Regions from separate parts of the Homo sapiens genome. Here region 2 is linked to region 1. Evidence: fine-mapped expression QTL. Tissue or cell type: aorta. Region 1 holds a variant in brackets; the other region holds the start of a gene. All regions are shown on one strand. Distances are from middle to middle. Region 1 overlaps LOC102724687 (a long non-coding RNA gene). Region 2 holds the start of ADHFE1 (alcohol dehydrogenase iron containing 1).

Region 1 (16,932 bases):
ATTGTTTAGAGCCTTATGAGCCAAAGTGAAAAGTTTGGATTTATCCTAAATGCAACAAGAAGCCACTGGGGGAGATTTTTAATTGATTAATTTTTTTTTTTAGAGATGGGGTCTCATTTTATCGCCTAGGCTGGAGTGCAGTGGTGAGGTCATGGCTCACTGGAGCCTGAACTCCTGGGCTCAAGCGATCCTCCTGCCTCAGCCTCTTGATAGGGACTGCAGATGCATACCACCATACAAAGCTAATTTTTAAATATTTTGGGAGAGACAGGAGTCTCACTGTGTTGCCCAGGCTGGCCTCAAACTCCTGGGCTCAAGCTACCCTCTCACCTTGGCCTCCCAAAACACTGGGATTATAGGTGTGAACCACTGCACCTGGCCAACTGGAGAATTTTAAGCAGAGGAGTAACATGGTCTGATCCCCATTTTAACAGCATCACTTTTGCTCCTGCATGAAGAGTGAATTACAGAGAGTTAGAGTGGAAGCAGTTAGACAGGTAGGCAGTTCTCACAGGATTCTGGTGAAGGAATGATGGTGCCTTGAACTGAGATGGTAGTTATGGAGACAGAGATAGTACATGGACTTGGGAGAGAAGTAAACCTGTCAGGATTTGCTGTTGGAATGAATATGAAAGGTGAGGGGAAGAGAAGAATTGAGGATGATTCATTGTTTTGGTTTGAGCAACCAGGTGGAAAGGATTGACATTTAAAGATTTGGGGAAGACTGGGAGAAAAGAGGTTTGTGGGAAGGAAAAAAAAATCAAAATTCTGTTTCAAGCCTGTTAAGTTTGAGACGCTTATTACATATCTAAGTAATATATCAAAAGGCAATTGCATAAGTGTGCCTGCTCTTCAGGGCATTTTTAAAACTCAAGGTATAAATTTTGGAGTTTTCCCATATATATGATATAAGATGGTTGATTCTTGCTCTCTGTGGTACTTATATTCTATAAAGCTGCTGCAAACACTGAATTAGGAAATACTGAACTATTGCTCTTACAGGAAATACTGTTAGGTTCCTGTGAGCCACTGTTCACAATTTTCATTAAGCAATCTATAAAAAACCTTGTTTTATGTGTGTTTCTGTTTAAAGACATCTTTTGTAATGTATAGTGTTGACTCGTTAATATTGCCCTCATGGCAACAGTACTATGTCTCATGCATGAACAACGCTTCTTTGACACATGTATTTTCCCCGTAGGGTGCATCACAACCCCCTTGCACTTAGGAACACTACACAGCACTTCTGCAGTTTTCTTGGAGGCCATTTTAAATGGTTAAATCAATAAAAAAAGAAAAGCCTAACGGTTAAAAATTATGGCACTAAATAGAGCACTAAAAGGACACTTGTTTGTAGTATGACAGCTGAAACAAGAAGGCAGAGATTGCTTTGTTTGCCTCAACTGGGAACATATATGTTAGGGGACTCAAAGTTTTGCTGCTCTGCACATGTTCATGAATGACCATGAAAGTGCTTGGAATATTTATTTCGGAGTTACAAGTAATTTTAGTGAGTAGGCGAATTTGCAAATATGGAATCTGTGAATAGTGAGGATTGCTGAATACAGAGAGGAACAAAGGGCTTAGGCTTCCCTTTGTTGGATGTACACCAAACAAAACTGATACACCTGCTGACCCCCTCATCTTCCACTACCTGCAGTGTTTGCTCTTCTATAACATACTCTTCTAGATAAGCAGGACAGCTGTTAGTACATAAAACAATATCATTCAGTGTCTCAGTGAAATTCATTCCTTCAATGAATATTTACTGAGTACCTCTTCTATATCAGACGTGGGGTATATACATTTTAGACATAGTTCCTGCCCTCAAAGGGCACCCACTGTAGTGAGAGAAACAGACACATAACAAATGATGGGAGGAGTCCCAGTTAAAAATGGTGGAATTGAGTAATGTTTACTCCCCTTGTCTTCTTGAAGTAATCTATCATAAAGAATAGAAAATATTATGAAAATATCATCTATAATGAAACTAGGAAAGAATGCCAAACAGGTTATGAAGTATTTCTGTTAAACAGAGTGAAACCTCTAACCAACGGAGGAAAATTCTGGAAAGTGAATACATTGCTCTTTATGTTTCCTAACCTGGGGAAACTACGTGGAGAGAGGCAGGGGGAGCAGCAGTCAGCTTCACGGCTCTGGCCATAGTCCACCAAGTAGCCCAGTCACGGATCGTTGGGCGGATGAGCAGCTAGGCTTCATCAACCTTGCTCCAGAGCAGGGTGTCCGCACTGAAGGAACAAGCCTCAAACTTGAAAGGATCTCCTTCCCAGGATAACTGATTGGAAAGTGTTCAGACAAAATGTACGAAAATTAAATTCGCCAACTGCCCAAGATTACTCATTCTTATACTATTTTATTAAAGATCATTGCTGATGAGAATTATACTGATTCAATATTGAATAATAATCAGAAAGGATTCAGCATAAGATCTATTCACAGCCACCATAAAAGAGAAGAAAGTAATAAAACACAGAAAAGGTCAATACAGATTATACTTCAGCTAAATTATCCCAGTAAAGAGAAGATTTCAGGCAAACACCTTCTCCATGCTTTCAGAGAAATTAATGGGAAAATGGACTGTTAAAAAAAAAAAAAGGAGCTCAAGGAAGTGATAATTACTCAAACACATAACAAATGAACTGACAGAACTCTGCAAAGAATTTTTTTAAAGAATCCACTGCAAAAATTAAAATTACCTTGGAAGCAGCAAGAAATAGGATACTGATGGAAAAAAAAATTGTCAAGGATTTATGGAACAGTCCTAAGAAAATCTAACAAAACAAAATAAAACAAAAACCACCAAAGAAATGTCATTAATTAGACAGATGATGATAGCTATGGAAGACAGAAAAATGATTCAATAGAAGCATAGCATAATTTATTTCAGTAAATAAATAAAACAAGTAAAGAAAGAAAAATATTAAAATACACAGTAGAAGAAACATTTCCTGAAATTTAGAAAGCATCTGATCGACATAAAAAGGAATATGTAATGATTAAGACAGCATATCTTGATGAAGTTGTTAAATTTCAAGATCAAGAAAAGTCTCCAATAGCCAGTGAAACTAAGAAAGAACTACAATGGAGAAAATGTCAATCTGGCCTCAGATTTTTTCACAGCAACATTAAATGCGAGAAAAGAATGAAATTATTTTTATAAAGAATTCAAAGGTAAGAATTTTATACCTAGTCAAGTTATCCTCCCAAAATAAGTATAACAGAAAGACATTTCTAATATGTATAATCTCAGCATATTAATGAGCCCTGCTTGGAAAAATACATTTGATGATGAGATATAGACGATTAAATAATACATTGCACTTAAAAAATTAGGAATGGAAAAGCTGTCGTATGAACTGACTAGCGGTGAGCATTGAGTACATTTACATAATGTAATAAGGTTTTAAAGATAACCCTTTAAACGAGGGTAGCAATTGTAATTTGACTTCTTTCAAAAGAGAATTAAGTAGTGCCTATAATTATTTAAACAAGGAGTAGATGAGATCACCCAGTGAGTTAACATAGTATGAGGTTCCTAACACCGCTAATAGTGTTGGGTTTAAAAAAAAAATTAAAGGCTGGGTGTCATGGCTCACACCTGTAATCCCAGCACTTTGGGAGGCCGAGTCGGGCGGGTCACAGGGTCAAGAGATCGAGACCATCCTGGCCAACATGGTGAAACCCCGTCTTTACTGAAAATACAAAAATTAGCTGGGCGTGGTGGCACGCACCTGTAGTCCCAGCTACTCAGGAGGCTGAGGCTGGAGAATCACTTGAACTCTGGAGGTGGAGGTTGCAGTGAGCCAAGATTGCACCACTGTACTCCAGCCTGGCAACAGAGTGAGACTCCATCTCAAAAAAAAAAAAAAAAAAAAAAAATTAAAAAAGATAGTATGAAGGACTTCAATTAACTTATGATAACAGATTCACAAGAATTTTTAAACACATAGATTAAAAAAAAAAGGTCACATATTACATCTTGTGTCTTTAATTACCTAGCATAATTCTAGTTCTATTCTGAGCTTTATATACTAATTTTTGAAAATTTTGAAAAATATTTTGAAAGAAAATTTAACAAAAAGAAAGAGAAACAGAGGATAATGAAACTACCTGCTTGCCAAAAATTCCAGAAAGAATTATTTTGAACGTATCTTTATGAAGCCAACTCTTAGAAGTTCACACTGGAAGCATGTATGTTTTCATACAGCTACTTTTCTCAATCTTTCCCTCCCCTGATATAGTGACACAAGCCCCAGTCAAGTGTGTATCCAGAACAAAGACCAATGTGCCTATCCAGGGTTGTGTACAATTCATGACTAAGGGCTATAAATCTGTCCCTTTCTCCACTTCTCAAGAAAGGCTCTCACAATGAAGTGAGTGCATCAATTAGGGAGCTTTCAGCTGCAAGCCACACTCA[A/C]AATCAGTCAAATAATAAGGGGCTTGATTATGTCACAAAGTGAAATCAGGATTTAGAGTGATTCAGAGTTGGTTAATTTAGCAAATCCACAGCATCAAGACCGGGTTGTTTGCATCCTTCAACTCTGCCATCTTCAGCAGTGTGTTTGCTTTTATTTTCAGATTTGTTCCCTCATGGCCTCAAGGTGGCTGCCGCAGTGCTAGACTAAATCCTCACTTACAAAGCCTCAAGCTTAGAAGACAGAACATCCCTTCCTTGTGACTCTTTTTGAAAGTGAAGAAGAATCTGTTAGAACCTCCTGAAAAGACTTACTCTCATGTCTCATTAGTCTGAATTCTGTCACAGGACAAGTCCTAAACCAAACATTGCAAAGGAAATGGCAGAGGGGATTAGCTCTTCTGAAGCTAAAGATCTGTTTGCAGTCAGAAAACAGGTAGGCAACGGACACTATTTGTTGGAGCGACAGTGATATTATAGAAGTAACTTTCAATTGTTGTACCATTTATATAAAATAAATAAATGAAAAAGTGTTCTTGGTACCACAATAGTTACTATAGGCAAAATCCGTTGATGAATACTACTCTTAGTAGGTGAGACTTTAAGGAGAAGCAGGGTATTTGCATAGCTGGAAAGGAATTTCCCAAATACATTTATTAATTACTATTAATGGTGGGTTTTGACATACACTCCCAAATTCTTCTACCAGGAGGTGAAGTTTAATTTCTGTCTCCTTTATTATGAGTTTGACTTAGAAACTTGCTTCTAAGGACTAGAGTATGGAAAGGAAAAAATACCTTTACAGCACAGAAACCGGCAGATACTACCTTAACTGAACGATCAATGTTAACATCACCCGTAATAAGTTGTATTGACATGATGTATCCCTTATATGATGTGATGAGAAGGGCACCTCACCTCTGTGGTATATGGTATTATTCCTCCAAATCTATAAGCTCAGTCTAATAATGAGAAAGCACCAGACAAATCCAAATGGAGCCAATATCATGAAAAGCAAATGAGGAAAGGCTGGCAAATTGTCAGAGTTGAGTTTATAAGGAGACAGGATGACTTAATGCAACATGGTATCCTGAATCGAATCCTGGAACAGGAAAAGGACATCAGTGGAAAAACCAGTAAAATCTGAATAATTCTATAGTTTATAGTATTGTTAATGTTAATTTATCAGTTTTATAAATGCACCATGGTTATGTAGCATGTTAGCATTAGGGGAAATGGGATGAAGGGTACATAGGAACTGTCTGTGTTATCTTTGCAACTCTTCCATTAATCTAAAAATTGTCAAGATTCAAAGTTTTAAAACAATTCAGTTATTAGGGCAAAAAGGTTTCTTTATCATTAGGTCTAATTACTTTCAACATATCTCTCAATAGATCATGACACTGCAATGTCTCATGGTGTTCCCTTTGGTTGAGAATGGCTGCTACTTTGTTCATTTATTACGTATTAACAGACATCTCTATGTGCCAGGCATGATGCTACCAATGATGAACTGAGAAGATACTGCCCTGGCCCTTCTGCAACTCACATTCAATTGACCTAAACTGGGAAGTAAAGTTTTTTCCTATCCAATACAATAGTGATTTGCAGAGAATCCCCAACTTTGAGGGTTTTGAAATGAGTTACAGATATTTGGTTTTTAAAATTTGACACAAATTGTATTGAATATGGAAAATTGATGCTACTCATTTTTGAATACCAGCAAGTGAAATTAGTCCTTACAGTTTTTTTTTTTTTTTTTTTTTTACAAAAGGAGATATGAGTTAAGGGTTTTACTTATGCTGGAACATAATGTTTTACTCCTTTTGTCCAAGAGTAAGCATGGGCCATTTCAGCTAAAGTAAGGAATTTGTTCAGTTACTATCAGGTTCAGGAAAACAACAAACAAACAAACAAACAAACAAATAGAATGTATTAGATTTACCAATGACTGAAGACAGGATTGGGAGACTTTGATGACAAACCTTGTACTGTTTGACTTAGCACATTGGCAAATCTGATTGTAATATATGTCAGATGAGTTCTAAAAAGGTGAATACAGAATTTAATAAAGAGGGAATAGAAAAAGACAAGTTATTAGAATGTAAAATAGAAACAACACTTAGGCTTAGAGACCCAGGAATTCACAGCTTTTTAATAGTGCTTTGTCTCATGCTTGCTGAATCTTTCCTGTAATTACCTGAATGAAAAATGGTCTTAAAATAAATGAACAGAACATTGTACCTTTCCCAAGACAATGCTGCAGCTATGTCAGGATACCTGTAGGAGGTTGTAATAAGGCTGCTGGGTGAATTTTAAGTCAAAATTTATTTAAAACAATCATGTTAATTATTCATAAACAACAACCAGACTAACATAAAGTTATTTTCAGGTTTATTTTTGATTATTTAGAAATGATTATTATATTCATTTTGGTTATTTAACCATCATATACATACACAAAAAAGAAAATAAAATCACTAAAGACCAGTTTGTTTCAAAAAATCAATTTTGGTCAAGATTCATCCTATAGGATTCAGAAAATATTTTCTGCAGCTAAATAAAATGGAAAAGCTTCATTTCAGTCAAGCTCAATGAACATTGTTTTCATCAGTGAGATGTGTGATTTTTGTACCTACTTTGATTCTCTTGATCACTGCGTTTTTTTTCCCCACAGTGAACTTTTACAGCTTTTACTCGACAATATCTCTTCCTCCTCTTAATGATATCACCCCAATATTTTTTATTGAGGTGATTTTACAAGCAGTGATATGTACAGATCTTAAGTGCACAATTAAATGAGTTTAGACAAATGCATATGCTCATATAATACCATCTCAATTAAGATACAGACCACTGGGCTGGGCACAGTGGCTCATGCCTGTAATCCCAGCACATTGGGGAGGCCAAGGTGGGAGGATCGCTTGAGCTCAGGAGTTTGAGACCAGCCTGGGTAACACGGAGAAACCATGTCTCCAAAAAAGAAAAGAAAAGAAAGAAAAATGATACAGAACATTTCCATCGCTCCAGAAAGTTCCTTCATGCACCAGGCAGTCAACTCTTAACCCCCATACACAAAAATATTGTAATTCCATCACCATAGATTAATTGCCTGTCTTTGAACTTCACATACATGGAATTGTTCAGTATGTATTTCAGTGTGTCTGGCTTCTTTTGCTCAACATATTTTTGAGATTCACTCTGTTGCTGTGTGCATCAATAGTTTATTCCTTTTCACTGCTGAGTAACGTTCTATTATGTGACTAAACTACAACTTGCTTATGAACTCTTCTGTTGATGGGCATAACATTGCAATAAATATTCTTGTAGTAGTTTTTTGGTGGACATATGTTTTAATTGTCTTGGGTAAAACCTAAGAATGAAATTGCTGAGTCATAGGGTAGGTGTATATTTAACTGTATAAGAAACTGACAGTTTAGCAAAATGCATCATTTTACAATTCTACTAGCAATATATGATACTTCAATTGTTCTGTGTCTGTCAGCATTTGCTGTTGTCATTTAATTTTAGCCATCCTAGTGCATGAAATGGTAACTCATTGTGGTTTCAATTTATATTGTTATAATGATTAAAGAGATTGAGAACATTTCCATGTCTTATTGGCCATTTGTATATATAGCTCCATGAAGTGTCAATTCAAATCTTTTGCTGTTATGTAGTTTTTGGTTGTTTTGTTATTAACTCATGAGTTCTTTAGATATTCTGGACATTAGTCCTTTGTTGGATATATGTGTTATAGATGTTTCCTTTTTTTTTCTTTTTTTTTGAGACAGTCTCACCGAGGCTGGAGTGCAGTGGCAGGATCTTGGCTCACTGCAACCTCCGCCTTCTGGGTTCAAGCAATTCTCCTGCCTCAGCCTCCCAAGTAGCTGGGATTACAGGTGCCCACCACCAAGCCCAGCTAATTTTTGTATTTTTAGTAGAGATGCGGTTTCACCATGTTGGCCAGGCTGGTCTTGAACTCCTGACCTCAGGTGATCCATCCGCCTTGGCCTCCCAAAGTGCTGGGATTACAGATGTCAGCCACTGCACCCGGCCACATTTTCATTTTTTATATCTTTTAATGAGCAGAATTTCTAAATTTTATGAAACACAACTTTTCTTTTTCTTTCTTTCTTTTTTTTTTTTTTTGAGACAGAGTCTTGCTCTGTTGCTCAGGCTGGAGTGCAATGGCGCAATCTCAGCTCACTGCAACCTTCACCTCCCGGATTCAAGCAATTCTCCTGCCTCAGCCTCTTGAGTAGCTGGGATTACAGGTGGGTGCTACCACGCCTGGCTAATTTTTGTATTTTTAGTAGAGATGGGGTTTCACCATGTTAGGCAGGCTGGTCTCAAACTCCTGACTTCAGGTGATCCGCCTGCCTGGGCCTCCCAAAGTACTGGGATTAGAGGTGTGAGCCACTGAGACTGGCCTGAAGCACAATTTTTCAATATTTTCTTTAACAGTTAGTGATTTCTGTGTCCTAAAAATCTATGCCTTGACAACAACAAATGCTGACAAGGATTTTTAGGGCAGTGAAACTACTTTGTATGACACTATAATGGTGAATACATGTCATTATACATTCGTGAAAATGCATAGAATGTACAACACCAAGAGTGAACCCTAATGTAAAACCCTAATGGATTTGGGGTGATAAGGTTAATGTATGTTCATTGATAATAACAAATATACCACTCTAGTGTGGGATATTGATGGGGGAGAGGTTGTGCATGTGCCAGGATAGGTAGTGTATGGGAAATCTCTGTACTTCCTACTCAATTTTGCTGTGAACCTAAAACTCTAAAAAATAAAGTCTATGCAAAAAAATCTATTATTTCCCCTAATAACCTGCAATGCTATCTCTGTAGCTTATTATTTTTTAGCGGAGAGGAAATATATACATGTTGTATACATGTATAAATACATATACATGTATGTATTTATTTAGCTAATTGTGGTAAAATACATTGAACACAAGATTTCCTATTTTAACCATTTTTAAGTATATACTTGAGTAGTGTTAAGTATATTCACATTGTTTTGCAGCCAATCTATAGAACTTTTTCATCTTGCAAAAGGGAAAGTCTTTACTCTTTACACAATACCTCTTCATTCCACACTGCCTCCAGCCCCTGGCAACCACCATTCTACTTCCTGTCTCAACAAAGTTAACTTGTCTTGATACCTTATATAAGTGGAATCGTACAATGTTTGTCTTTTTGTGACTAGCTTATTTCACTGAACAGAATGTCCTCAAAGTTTATCCATGTTGTAGCATGTGTCCGAATTTCCTTCCTTTCTGAGGCCAAATAATATTCCATTGTATAATAAATACCACATTTTGTTTATCCATTCAACCATTGATGGATACTTGAGTTACTTCTACCTCTTGGTTAATGTAAACAATGCTGCTATGAACATGGGTGGACAAATATATTTTCAAGACTCTGAGTTTAAGTTTTTTGAATACATACTCTCAAATGCTTTAAAAGTTGATTTAGTTGATCATATGCCTTTTTCCTCCCTAATCTGTAATGTGATGAATAATTACACAGATAGATTCCTTTGCATCCCTGCATAGGGGAGGAAAAATGTCTTTTTCTTTATTCATCCTAGGTTTATGGCAGAGGTCCCTATAACAAAAGACAGATTAATACATGAAAAGCTTACAAATTTATTTAGTGTAAGTTTTATGTGACACGGGAAACTTCAAAAGGAAATGAGGATGCAGAAACAGGTGAACCGATGCATTTTAATGCTAGATTTGATGAGAGTGGAGAGTCATGGAGAAATAGGATAGAGCTAAAAGAGTATGATCTAATTTAATGGTAATAAACTGGGGGAAACTTAGTAAGGCCTGTTCAGATTCTTCTCTGTGACTCTGTGTCTTCAGAGATAGGATGTTCCTTTCCTCCAGGAACAGAAAAGACACCTCTCACATGAGGGTCTTATGACCTGCTTCAGGAAAGAAGGTCAGGGGAAGGTCAGAGAGAACTTACTGCATATGCTATCTTTCTTTCTTTCTTTCTTTCTTTTTTTTTTGAGATGGAGTCTCGCTCTGTCGCCCAGGCTGGAGTGCAGTGGCGTGATCTCGGCTCACTGCAAGCTCCGCCTCCTGGGTTCACGCCATTCTCCTGCCTCAGCCTCCCGAGTAGCTGGGACTACAGGCGTCTGCCACCACGCCCAGCTATTTTTTTGTATTTTTAGTGGAGACGGGGGTTTCACCGTGTTAGCCAGGATGGTCTCCATCTCCTGACCTCATGATCCGCCTGTCTCGGCCTCCCAAAGTGCTGGGATTACAGGCTTGAGCCACCGTGCCGGGCCCTGCATATGCTTTCTCTCAAACTTTTTCAGCTGAAATATTCAGTATGCCAAGCTGTCGTATTTTCAGGTAGCATATCATGAAGTCCATCAACTAAGATATGATTTACTTGATTATTATGCATTTAAAAAATACACTGTCGAGTTCAGTTAGCTAATATTTAGGATATTTGCAACTATGTTTATAAATGAAACTGGCCTATAATTTCTCTTTTTTCCATTTTTCTTATCTAGTTTTGAGTAAAAGATTACACTAGCACTATAAAATGAGCTGGGCATCTTTTACTCATTTTCTATTTTCTGTACCAACTTGTAGAAGATAGGTTTTTTGTTTGTCTGTTTTTTGTTTTTTTTGAGTCAGAGTCTCACTCCATTGCCCAGGCTGGAGTGCAATGGCACGATCTTGGCTCACTGCTACTTTGGCCTCCTGCATTCAAGCGATTCTCCTGCCTCAGCCTCCCAAGTAGCTGGGATTACAGGTGCTCACCATCACACCTGGCTAATTTTTTGTATTTTTTAGTAGAGACGGGGTTTCATCATGTTGGCCAGGCTGATCTCGAACTCCTGACCTCAAGTAATCTGCCCACCTTGGCCTCCCAAAGTCCTGGGATTACAGGCGTGAGCCACTGTGTCCAGCCTACAAGACAGTTTTTATAAGACAGTTTGTTGGAACTTAGCTGTAAAGCTATCTGGGACTGGGATTTTTTCGGATTCAATTTCTTTTATACTTATTCATATATTCAAGTTCATTATTTCTTCCTGTACCAAGTTTGGCCATTTACATTTTTCTAGGTATTTTTCCATTTTATCTAGATTTTCAACTTTGTCAATGTACAGCTGCTTAAGTAATCCTCTGTTGGGTCTAGATATTTTCTTTCTTTATGCATTTTGTTTATTTTCATTTTCTCTTGATTAGTATTGCCAAGACCCTATTTTATTAATCTTACAAAAATTAACTTTTTATTTGTCTTCTATTTTTAGTTTTTAAAAATCTTTTATCTTTATTATTTGCTTCTTTCTTGTCACTTTGGGTTTGCTCTGTAACTCGCAACTTTTTGAGTTAAATCCTTAACTCACCTATTTTAGATATTTGTTACCCGGTAAATATATTTAAAGCTATAACTTTTCCCTAAGTACAGCTTTAGCTGCATACCTCAAAATTTTGTCTTGTAGTATCGTTATCATTCAGTTCTAAATATTTATTTCTGCTTTAACCAAAGACTTATTTGGTAATACATTACTTTTTAATCATGTGAGTTTTTTTGAAAAAGTTATTCTTCTGTTACGATTTAACAGTTTATTGGATTATGGTCAGAGAGCCAAGTCTGTAAGGTATTAATTATTTGAAATGTATTGTTATTTTAATAGCCTGGCACATGTTCAATTTTTGTTAATATTCTAAGTATGCAAGAAAAGAATAGTCACTCTTTTGTAAATCTAAGTTTCCTTTTTTTTTTTCCTTCAGAGTTGATTTTGTGGTAGGGAGCCAGTAGCTCATGCAAATTCAACATTTTGAAACAGGATACTTTCATTTTTAAACATTTAAATTACTGTTCATCTAGTAAAATGAGACTTTGGACCATTACACAAAGATGCACTTAGTGAAGTCAACATATAGATTTAGACATCTCTCTATTGTCATAGAAATAGTATATTTTGTTTTCTCAATTTTCCTAAGGGGATTGGTCTTTAGAAAACTTAAAACTAAAATTCCCGAGACAACTCAGACATAAGTACAATATTTAGTTTATTGGGCCCATTTTTGGGGGAAGGGCTTTACCTTCTCTCCATCTCGCCATTCTGCCTCTCAACTTTCCTCACCAGCCACACACAGCAGAAACTGGGTGATATCCAGATGGCTTCTTTTATTTTAACCTGAAGCACTTGTGCAAGTAATGAAAAATGGTAAGCAATTACTTTTCATGGGGGGAGGTTCTGTTAACTGAAAGACCATTGGTTCAGCAGAACCTGAGATGAATTGGGGTATGCGAACTTGATGGTAGAAACTGGAGTGCAGTGAAATTGTTTTCATAATTGTGGAGGAAGATGCCAGAATCAGAGAGAAATGCCCCAGGGGTAGTTAGCTGGAAGAGGGACTTGGGGGAAACTGAAATATCAAATAGATAATTTTAAAAAGTTTCTATTTTTAAAATTAATATTATTTTAAATTGACAAATCATAATTGTGTACATTTATGGGGGTACAATGTGATGTTTCGATATATGTAAACAATATGAAATGATTAAATCAAGCTAATTAACATATCTATCTCATCACTTATTTTTTGTTGTGGGACATTTGACATTTACTCTCTTAGTTATTTTGAAACATATTAATGCCTATAGTTATCTGCTGTGCAATATATCTCAAAACTTATTCCTCCTGTCTATTTGAAACTTCATATCTTCTGCCCAACAACTCCCGATTCCATCCCTCCACTCCCCTCAGCCCCAAGCCTCTGGTAATCACCATTCTACTCTCTACTTCTATGAGTTCCACTTTTTTAGATTAATAGATAAGTGAGATCACGTATCTGGCTAGTTTCACTTAGTATAATGCTTTACAGGTCCATCCATGTTGTTGCAAATGACAGAATTTTCTTTCTAGTTTTTTTTTAAGGCTGACTAGTATTCCATTTTGTATATATACCACATTTTCTTTATCCCCAAGTTGAGTAATTCTAAGTTGAATCCTGTAGGGTGTATAATGTAACCTTGTTTCTCAGTTTCCTCTATGAAATCTTAAGTAAACTACATCAAAGAGGAAGCAAGAGTCAGAGGGGACAAATGACATCTATTACCCCATGGATACATTTTACAATCATTAAGTCTCTGCACATCTTGTATGTGTTCTCTTGGCAAGAGTCCCTTGGAGTTTTAGATCCTTGTCTTTTTAAAGTTCAAGGCAATCTACTGCTTGAGGCTGTCCCAATCCCTCTATTCCCTCCCCATCCATACCAGTTCTCCTAAGGAGTCAGTATTAAAAGCAAAAGAATAAAGTTATCAGAAAGGATTTCACTAGTTGGGGGAAACTAATGATATAAATTCAATTTGTCTTTTGGGAAAATTACTGTATCATCTCAAATGATATGAAGGTCAGTTTGTAAGTCAAAGCCACATTCACTGCCCATCATCACCCTCTCCCCTCCTCGATGCTTCCCTATTTGATCAGATTCCAGCAGAGGCACTGAGGCAGGACACCATTCATACAGCCTTAGCTCCTGCTGCACACTCCAAGTTGATTGACTGCATCAGAAAAGCCGTGGTTCCCTGTGACCTAAAAGAGGCATTTTGAGTCCCTGAGCTCTTGCATCAAATAACTATCAGCAAAGGATACCAGGAAGGCAACACAGTTCATTGGTTCATTAACTCACGTTCCCCAGGGCTTTGAGGCAGATGGGGAAAGCTGGACCAAAGGCTGAGACTCTAGGAAGTCTTCTCTGTCAGTCATAAGCTGGAGCGGCAATGACAATGGGGAACAAGACCACTCAGTGGCACCTGGGCTGAGCTGCTGTCCTTAACAAAGAGAGGTTTGGAGGCTCCCCCACCATGCAGGAAGAAGGCAGAGCCCAACAGCTACATCCCTACCTTTCTGTCCTTAAAATTTGGTTCAGCATTTCTTTGTGATACACACATCACTTCTCCTACCAGCTGCGAGGGCAGGAGGAAAAGCAATTAAAGGCATTATTTATCACCAAGTTCCTACTGGGAAGGGTCAAACTGCAGCAGGATTTGAAAAGCAACAACAATTCTATCACCAAGGGAGTTATAAAAGTAGATAGCTCAACATCTTAGAGCTATATTTGGGCTTTTTCTTTCTTAGCCCTAAATATCTTTACTGAAAGTGAACATCCCAGAGGTGATTAAAAACTGGCCTTCCTGTCAGCTTTGGAATTGTTCGAGTTCTAACAATATTTGAGTTTGGCAAGCTTTGAGTCTGCTTTGGGAAGTTGCAGCAAAAATGAATTGGAAAATATATCTTTGCCTTTATAGAAGAGAAGAGAAGGGGCTCATTGTGTTTTATTATAACATCTATATTAGAATTCCCTCTTCACTGAAATCCATGGAAAATCAGAAAAACTTTTTGCATAATTGATTATGTGTGGCATTAAAATACCTATTGAACTTATGTTCATTTAATAGGATTGCTTTAATTCAAAAATTATGAAGTGGGCTGTGTTTCTTCTGGTGACTAAAACTCTTCATCCTGTTACCGGAAAGGGGTCCCGATCCAGACCCCAAGAGAGGGTTCTTGGATCTCGTGCAAGAAAGAATTCAGGGCGAGTCCTCAGTGCGAAGTAAAAGCAAGTTTATTAAGAAAGTAAAGTGGTGAAAGGACAGGTGCTCTATAGACAGAGTAGGACGTTCCTGAAAGTACGAGGAGGAACGCATCCACCCTAGGTACAATGCTTGTATATATGGGGGGAGGTGTTCTGCTACAAAGGTTTGTGATAAAGGATTAATTTTCTTCATTACTATATTTTGCAAGAATTGATAATATTATCTTTAAAGCAAAATTAGGAATGCCTTTGTTCTCCAGATATTGGGATATCTGGACGCTCCCAAATCTGAGTTTGTTATAGTAAACATTATTAATTTGTTCCCTTAACCATAAACATCTAGGGGCTAGGAATGCGTAATTTTCTGGGAATGCAGCCCAGCAAGTCCCAGCCTCATTTTCCTAGCCCTCACTCAAAATGGAGTCGCTCTGGTTCGAATGACTCTGACAATCCCAAACCTGCCCTCATGCAAGGGCTGAATGATTACGGCCCCTGAGTGGTCTCACTCTGTTTGTGCTGCACTTCTCTTTACGTATTTTTTTTTTTTTAAAGCAAAACAGCAAAAGGTTTATTAAGCGGGGTAACACCCTCGGAGAGGGGAGAGTGAGCTGACCGGTGAGTGGTGTCAGCCTCTTTATGGTTCTTGTATACTAATTCACTAGCATAATCAGTCAAGAAATATTTGCTGAGCATCTATTATGGGTCAGGGATATAGTAGAGAATAAAGCAGACATGTTGTTTGCCCCTGTGAATTTACAAGCTAGCAGGGAAGACAAATACTGAATAATTAGAGTAAAATAAATGTTACAAAAAGAGTGCATTGTTCTATCAGAATATGTAACTAGTTCTCCCATGAAGACTCCTATACTGTATTCCTTTCTTAGATCACTAGCTTCCTTTTATTACCACTACCAGATGATCATGATGATGATCATAATAGTAACCACTGACATTTGTTGAGGGCTTTTGATGTGCTAGACACTGTTATAAGTAACTTTAGAAAACTTGTTTGTAAGTGGTAGAGTCAGGATTTGAAGCTAAGATATTCAGAGCCCATGCTTAAACACTGTGCTGTAACACCTGCTATATTTTGTTTATATTAGTATGTGGTACATTTAGTGGGTTCTCAGAAAACATTTGTTAAATGGATAAATGAGTGGTTGAATGAATACAATGGTGCAATGAGGCGACAGTTACATCATTTGAATTGCTATGGTATTGGTGGCTGACCATTATTTAAGATTCTATTTTTCCCTAATTACGCTTGCATTCCTCCAGAAATCTTGAATTCAAAGTGCATCATCTGGTAGATGCTTTAATGCTCTTGGCTTTTTAAATTTCTATTTGTTATCTGCTGTAGTGAACTGTTGGTATCCTACTGACCTGAGCCAGGGATCCAAATACATAGTGTTTGGCACTTTCCCCCATCCCTGTATCCATGGCAAATATCACAAATTAGTTATGTCACTCCTTCCCAAGTCCTGATAGGAGTCTCAAAATCCTCCTCCCCTTCGAGTCATGACTACTGATACCATGTCAGCCTCCAAGAGGAAACCTATTCATACACCTGGCCCTAACTTCCATGCAAAGTTGCTGTACAATGATAATCTTGCCTTGCCTACCATCATTGTATTGCTCCCCTCTAGATGAAAGTTCAAGGGCTCTTTAGCTGGTGGTCAACAGTTAGATTTGGGTGATCCAATCATAGTCACTAAGTGGGGAGTGACCACTGCTACCTTGTCCACAAGTGAGAGTAAACTTGGCTACCGTGCGGAAACTCAGATGGACAGGTAGCGTTTTGGATTTATTAAAGATTGAAGTATATTAACTTGGTTGAGTATTGAAAGATAGGATTTGGAAATTGAGAAAAGGATGGAGGGTATCCAGTGTAAC
Region 2 (8,000 bases), 74 kb before region 1:
AGCCTTCCCCATCCCCATCTAATGGCAATTTCATCCTTCCAGTTGTTCGTGCCGGAGAATCTTGGGGTCACCCTTGGCCCCACACTCCCATCTCCCCCTTATTCACTCTGTTCCATACCCAGGTATGCTTCACCTCTGCATACCTTCCCTGAAGGCCACAGGGTTTGCTCTCTGCATCCACTGGTCTTTCCGCAACCATTACCTTCTCAGTGAGTAATCACTGAGTTGAGTAATCGCTCCTGAAGATAAGGTTCTAATCCTGGGAATCTGTGAATGTTACCCTACATAGTAAGAGGAACTTTGCAGATATGATTAAGAATCCTGGCTGGGCACAGTGGTTCACACCTGTAATCCCAGCACTTTGGGGAGGCTGAGGCTGGTGGATCACCTGAGGTCAGGAGTTCAAGACCAGCCTGGCTAACATGGCAAAACCCCATCTCTACTAAAAATACAAAAATTAGCCAGGTGTGGTGGTGTGTGCCTGTAATCCCAGCTACTCAGCAGGCTGAGGCAGAAGAATCGCTCGAACCCAGGAGGTGGAGGTTGCAGTGAGCCGAGATCACACCACTGTACTCCAGCCTGGGCGACAGAGCGAGACTCCATCTCAAAAAAAAAAAAAAAAAAAGAATCTTGCTAGGTGTTGTGGCGCATACCTATAATCCTAGCACTTTGGGAGGCCAAGATGGGAAGACTGCTTGGGGCCAGGAGTTCAAGAACAGCTGGGGCAACATAGTGAGACTCCATCTCTACAAAAAATAAAATCAGCTGCGCATGATGTTGTGCACTGTAGTCCCAGCTACTTGGGACGCTAAGGTGGGAGGATCTTTGAGGAGGCCAGAAATTCGAGATTGCAGTGAGCCGTGATCACATCACTGCACTCCAGCCTAAGTGACAGCAAGACTCTGTCTCAAAAAAAAAAAAAAAAAAAAAAAAAAAAATCTTGAAATGAGGAGATTATTCTGGATGATCTGTGTGGGCCCTAAATGCAATCACTCATAGCCTTATAAAAGGGAGGCAGAGGGAGATTTGACCCAAAAGACAGAAATGTGAGCACTGAAGCAAGATGAGTGCCAGCTGTGAAGATGGAGGAAGGGGCCACAAGCTAAGGAACCGAAGGTAGAGCTCTAGAAGCTGGAAAAAAGCAAGTAAGTGGATTCTGCAGCACCTCTGAGCCTTACTCAAGAGGGAGTGTGGCCCTGCTCACACCTTGGCTTCAGCCTAGTAAAACTCATTTCAGACTTTTGACCTCTGGAACTGTTAAGACAAATGTGTGTTAAGCCACCAGGTTCATGGTAGTTTGTTACAACAGCTGTAGGAAACTAACATAGTGAGGGCTGCTCTGAACACCTCAAAAATTGCATCCCTTCCTTCAACATCCCAGCCTCCTTTATGTTCTCTGTAATAACTTTCAACAGCTAATGTACTCTCAATTTTACTAACTAGTTTGTCATCTATCCCCTGTGCCCCATGCATGGTGTGGTTAGGTTGTTTTGTTCCCTGCTGTACCCCAGAGATAACACAGTCAAAGCAGGGCTGCATTGCACATCTTTTTTTTTTTTTTGAGACACAGTCTTGCTCTGTAGCCCAGGCTGGAGTGAAGTGGCCTGATCTCTGCTCACTGCAAACTATGCCTCCCAGATTCAAGTGATTCTCCTGCCTCAGCCTCCTGAGTAGCTGGGACTATGGGCACCCACCACCCTGTGCAGGGCTGCACATCTGGAGACGGAATGTGACTCTTGCCCTCCAGGGCCTTCCCACAACCTCTCTGGCCAGTGCACGCCTTGCCTCTGTCTCCTTCAGTGCTGATTCTTTCCCCTCCATTCAGTTGTCAGCGCAGTTGCTCTATGGAATGTGTTGGGCAGAAGCCCAGAGTGCATGCTCTGTCCAATAGAAATGGCCACACATCACCCCGTGCCCTAGCCCACTTTGCCCAGATGAAACATGTGCCCAATGATGCCATTTTCCAATTTTCCAAGATTTTCATTGGAAATCTCCCACTTTTAAAATGTTTACCCTATTAGAATAATAAGCATGTGCAGAAGAAAGCACCATCTTGCTACTCCTGCTGTGGCAGTGCTGCTCCCCAGGAATTCACCCTCAGCTGTTTCCTTCTAGGTTAGAGTTTTGTTAGGGCTTCAACTGTCCTCCATACGCATGGATGGATGTGTTCCCAACTCACTCTTGAGCCCCAGAACAATACATTCAATCACCTACTGGGGTCTCCATCTGAATGTACCAGAAGCATGCTCAACTCAAAATGCCCTAGACTGAAGTTGCCATTTTCCTCCTAACACTAACTCTCCTACAATCCCTGCCTTGGTAAATGAGCCCACTGTTTACTTGATGCCCAAGCCAGAAATCTCAACTCTTCACTATTCAGATACAAAATCCTGTGGATTCTAACCAACCTCTCAGCATTTCTATCTACCCAAGGAACTGCCTCTCCGTGCATGAAGCCATTATCTTCAGGCTGGAGCAGGACAATGACCTCTAGTCCTTCCTCTTCACTCCACATTTCCACCAGAATGTGCTAACACAGTTCTGATTATGCCATACTCCCTTTTCATGCAACCATTCCAAAAACATATTCTGTGTGTGACACTGATTCCATGGGATATAAATGGTGTTGTGTGACAAAGAGTTCTATGATGACACAGGTTTACAACCAAAAATTTGAACACAGCTTTAGTATTTTTTGTAGCTTCTTGGAGCCCTGCATGTCTAATGTATATTTTGATTCTCCAAGAGGGCAATACAGCAGTAAGGAGCTTCTCAAACTTATTTGGCCATGTAATTCTTTTGTCATGGGACATTTTAAGGTATCAGTGTTTAATGGTGACAAATATTATTCAATGGCTTTCCATTATCTACAGCACACAATTCAAATTCCTTACTACAGGCCTAAGAACAAGGACTGTGAAGCCAGAGTATCTGGGTTCAAATTATGACTGTGCCATTTGCTTAGCTGTGTGACACTGGACAAATTCTTCTCCATGCCTTTATTTCCGTATCTATGAGGATGACAATACCGTGTGTCATAGGGTCAGTGAAAGGATTAGAGTTACTATTATACTGATAGTCCATTCAAAGTGTGTAAGACACTGCCGGGCTCATCGTATTAGCTATATTCTTATTCATGGTCTTTTATCAGCCGTCTTCTCCATCTTTACCTCCTCTTATAAAGGTAGGTCTACTTGTCTTTTGTGTCCTGGGACTGCATCTCCATCGCTGGTGTTGCTCTTCTCTCTGCCTGACGTTCCTCGCCAGTCCCTCGCCTTTCCTCCTACTGATCTGCACCTGTGAGCTCAAACTTTTCCATGTTTCCCAGGCAGACTTGTGCACTTGCACAGTCAGCAAGTATTTATCAGGTGACCAGGATGTACCTCACATTTCTGCTGGGAGGCAGGCGTGTCATGACATTGAATACCCTGACTCCCTGTACATGCCAGGAAGTGTGACTCTGCGACTTCTCACATCCATCCTTCCCTTCTACACCCAGTCTGCTATAGCCGGTTTTAGCCTCGTCCCCTCATCCCATTCCCCACTAGACCTCAAACTGCTCCAGAGCCTTTCATCTTTGTATCCCCAGAACCTAGAATAGTTTTTGGCACATAATATATGCCCAATAAATATGTGTCAATTGCATACATGAATTTGTCTTGGCCACCGTGCCAAGCTCTCCACTGCCTGCTACGATGTGGGACCAGGTCCTCTCTGGGCCTCAGTTTCTTTAACGGTAGACAAGCAGAGTAAAGGCTGCCTCACTGCGCCCTGAGAGGCTGCATCGCGCACTCTGTGACCTCGCTGTTCCGCCTGGCGCGCGGTGGGAGCCCAGGGCGGTATCCAAATTCTCCGAATTCTTGAAAGTAAGCGGAGAAGACTGCGCAGGATCTGAGCGGGTCACACCCAGGGGGCTGCGTGGGCACCCTGCGGTCCCCTGCCCGCCCGCCGGCCCCGCACTCACGCTGCGCGTTGCAGTTGCCTCAGCAAGTACGCGACCCGGGCTCGGGCGGCAGCGGCCATGGCGCTTGGAGTCCTCTTCCCTCCTCGGGTCGCTACACCGCCCCCTCCGCCGGCCAATCACGGAGGCTGCCCGCCTCCCGCCCCTCGGCCGCGCCTGCCCACCCGCTTCGCGGGGTCACCTGTCTAAGCCTCAAGCCAGTCGGGCTCAGGGCCATTTTCCCACGGAGTAAGAACCAGAACGCCAGCTGCCCCAGCGGCGCTCGCACCATCCACCCTTGAAATTGCCGTAGAAGGTAACTGCTCCGTAGGCCTCGGGTTCTGCCTTAAATCTCCTTACTTATCAACTCTATTTTTCACATGTTGAGGACTTGGGGGAAGGAAGAGGAACAGGGATATTCTTTTTCCACTGTTAATCCTTTAAAATGTTACTTTCCCTTCTAAGAGTATTTTAAGTGATCAAGACCCTGCCTTTAAACTGTTTTAACAGTAAACAAGAACCTAGCAGAGCCCGAGGGTTTTTGTTAAATACTGTGTGAATGGCTTTGCTTTTGATGAAAGCAAAATCAATAGTTAAAACTCTTACATCAATAGTTAAAACTTGCCATGATTAGACTATGCTCCGGGAGGGCTTGGCTGTGCCATATCTGCCATGTCCCAGTGGAAAAGCTGATTAACGATAAAGCTCAACTTTATCAGAAAGTATCCAAAGACAGTAACAACTAAACATTTGCATTTTTAGTAATCTGTTATTATGAAATCTGAATCCTTTATGGGAGATATTAAGTTTTACAGAAATGAATTTACTGCGATCAAACTGGAAAAGATTGATGGACAGGAAGACCAAGGACAGCTATATAAACATTTCACCTCCTAATCAAACCAGCTCAGGCCAACTTGACAAATGAATCAAAAAATAATGTTCTATGAGAACACATGTACACAGGGAGGGGAACAACACACATTGGGGCCTGGGGGCAGGGGATAGAAGGGGGCAGAGGGACTTAATACTTAGGTGATGGGTTGATAGGTGCAGCAAGCCACCACAGCACACGTTTACCTATGTAACAAACATGCACATCCTGCACATCTACTCCGGAACTTAAAAAAAGATAATAATGTCCTAATTAAGGATCTTATGGGTCTGTTTCTTTCTTCCCCCAAACAAAACTATACCTGACGTCAAGCTTAAAAACAAACACACACACACAAACAACTGGGGATATAAACGTAGAGAAAGATTTAAGTGTTTTCTGGATTAATGAGGATTATTACCATTAGTCAATGAAGCCCAAATTGATCATTTACAGGAAATCCATGTGTTCAGTGTTGAAAGGCATAAAATCTTTTTAAAAAACAGACATCAGTTTTACTACTTTGAATATTATATTTGATACCAAAAGAAGTATAAGTTTAGAAGTGGTATCACTGAAACCATTATAATTGAACTGCTTTTTTTTTTTGAGATGGCCCCTTCCTCTGTTGCCCAGGCTGGAGTGGAGTGCAGTGGCGTGATCTGGGCTCACTGCAACCTCCGCCTCCCAGGTTCAAACGATACTCCTGCCTCAGCCTCCCAAGTAGCTGGGACTACAGGTACCAGCCACCGTGTCTGGCTAATTTTTTTATTTTTAGTAGAGATGGGGTTTCACTGTGTTGGCCAGGCTGGTCGCGAACTCCTGACCTCAGGTGATCCGCCCGCCCCGGCCTCCCAAAGTACTGGGACTCTACAGGAGTGAGCCACTGCGCACGGCCTGCTTTGTGTTTTTCAGAAAGTAAACAAAAATAATCTGTACCAGGTATCCAGGTAACCGGCTTCAAGTACAATTTCTACCCAGTAGTCAGAAAGTTAAAAGTCACACTAGATAAGACATCTTTATTACTTAATCTTTAAAACAGTCACTTGCCTATTCAATTCTGAAACTGTTTGTTTTCTTTCCCTCCCCCGCACTCCCGCTCTGATACACAAACTTGTTGTAAAAATAATGCAGAAACATATACGTCAATCTAAGTCTCTGAAATATGGCCAACTCTACCTCGCCGTATATCCAACATTAAAAAGAAAAAAAAAGGCTGTTTAAGAATAGAACTCATTCCCGGTTTCCACCAAATTATTTCCCTAATTCTTAAATCCTCAAATAAGTTCTTAATCTCCAAAGTCTCGGTTGTGGGAAAAACATTAATTTGTGCAGTCCAACACTTACATACTTTCTTGACGGAAGGGCAATCCTGTCCCTTTAAACTCAATGAAGGCAGCGGCCAGGTCCTTCTGAGTCCCCGTATAATTGCCTAGAACTTAACATTTAGTATTCATAGTCCTTGGTTTACAGACGGGTCCGACAGTTAGAAACTATTACTTCCTCCTCTTTCCTCCTGGGCGCTGTCCTCCTTTTCTCTTGCCACCCAAGCCAGGCGGCCCAGAATTCATCTTGCCTCCCAAGCCCCCTTTCCTCTTCCCTCCCTGGCTGGGCGGGCCCCCTTTCCTCTTGCCCCCAGGCCCCTGCCGGCCTCCCTTTCTCTTGCCCTTCTGGCTCATTTTCCTCCTCTTGGCGGCCTCCTCCTGGTCCTCCTCCCTCATCTGCTTATTGGTGGCCCTAGTCACATCCAGCTGAGGCTTCTTGCTGTTCATGACACGAAGCAGCTCCAACTGGTTCTTTTTCTCGGCTGCAAAGTCCCCGAAAAGGGGTTGAAACTTCCTTTTCTTGCCGGAGCCCCGGGGCACCTTCTCCTTGGGGAGGCGCTCCTGAAAGCGCCCCACAGAGGCGGTGGAGACCTTGGCCACTTGCATGGCGCGGCCCAGCTCCTCCTTACTCTGGTGTCCGGTAGGGTGCAAGCCGGCCGCGCTGGGCAGCTGCATCTTGTGCGCGCGGGCCAGGTTACGCAGCCGGTTCAGCTCGTTCTTGGCCACCCTTTCCTTCTTGGCCTGAATCCGCTTGGCGAACTGGTCCTCCAAGGGGTCGGCATTGCCGGGCACCTCAATCAGCCATTCTTTGGTGTCGTCCCGGGCGCGCTGGTAGCCCCAGCGCCGCCGCCACTGGCCACTCACCTCGTCCCACACCAGGTTGGTCTTCTTCTTGGGACGGATGCCCTTGAGGCGCGCGAACTGCTGCCAGCGTGTAAGTGGCCGCGGTCGGGGCAGAGGCTTCTCTCGCGGCAGGCGTGTGGTGGGCTCCGGCAGCCGCGCCACTATCGCCTCTTCCACGCGCTCCGTGGGCAGCTGCCACAGCTGGTTGATGAGCAGTTGCGTGTTGTCCCGCGCCAGGGCCTGTAGCTCGGCCTCCGGCGTGGGTCCGGCGCACCGCAGCCCGGTCGGGGGGTTCCGGTCCGACGCCAGCAGGTTGCCCAGGTCAAACTGCAGCTCCAGCTCCTTGTGCACCGTGATGCGTTGCAACTTCTCTGCCTCGTCCTGCTCTGCCTTTGCGAGCAGCTCCTCCACGCTCTGGCCCTCCATGGCTCCGGCTCGGCTCACTCGCTTTGGGGCTGCAGCTGAAGTTACTTTTCCTACAGTGGCGGCCCAAACTCCGGCAGCATAACCACGTGCAGATGCCGGGATGCCCAATCCGGAAAAGAAAGGTTCGCTTCCGGAGCGTCCGGAAGCGGCTCGCAATCCGGGCGACCAGAGGAAAGGCCGGCAGAGGGCGGTATGGAGAGATGATGGGATTAGAAGCGGGACCTTTAGGCTGGCGCCAGATAGAGGCGGAGCTGGCCCGAGCAGGCCGCACTGCTAGTTCCAGAGCAGGATTGGGACTACGATTCCCAGGATGCAGGGGGCGGGAGGCGGTCTAGAGGGCGGTCCAGGGACAGCTCGGGGGGCCGCCTAGGGGGTGGTCCAGGGGGCGGTCCGGGGACAGTCTCGCAGGCGGTCTAGAGAGGGCGGTCCCGGGGGGCGATCTAGGGGGCGGTCTTGGGGGGGGCAGTTCAGGGAGTGGTCTTAGGATGGTGGTCCGGGGACAGTCTTGGGGCTCAATCCGGAGGGGCGGGCCGGAGGGTTTGTCCAGGGGCGCGGTCCGGGACCGGGGCGGGTACAAATTCCTGGGACTGCC

What was found.
Region 2: it holds the start of ADHFE1, and the variant in region 1 is fine-mapped to the expression of ADHFE1 in aorta (GTEx, PIP above 0.99).

The regions. Positions count from the first base shown.
Region 1 is chr8:66,349,779-66,366,710 of GRCh38, reverse strand. The region is part of intron 1 of LOC102724687 (a long non-coding RNA gene); the gene reads left to right. Among named protein-coding and RNA genes, the nearest start is that of RRS1-DT, 71 kb to the left of the region's middle. The variant A/C (reference allele first, on the strand shown) is at 4,439.
Region 2 is chr8:66,428,540-66,436,539 of GRCh38, reverse strand. It overlaps ADHFE1 (alcohol dehydrogenase iron containing 1), which reads right to left and starts at 4,036. Exons shown (of 14, transcript NM_144650.3): 1 at 3,965-4,036. The coding sequence starts at 4,023. RRS1 (regulator of ribosome synthesis 1) reads right to left here and starts at 7,526. Exons shown (of 1, transcript NM_015169.4): 1 at 5,807-7,526. The coding sequence starts at 7,408. The coding sequence ends at 6,311. RRS1-DT (RRS1 divergent transcript) reads left to right here and starts at 7,563. Exons shown (of 3, transcript NR_040434.1): 1 at 7,563-7,598. It overlaps LOC102724687 (a long non-coding RNA gene), which reads left to right and starts at 4,174. Exons shown (of 5, transcript XR_929013.3): 1 at 4,174-4,256. RefSeq lists silencers at 3,783-4,202, 7,788-7,877 and enhancers at 5,959-6,008, 7,278-7,647.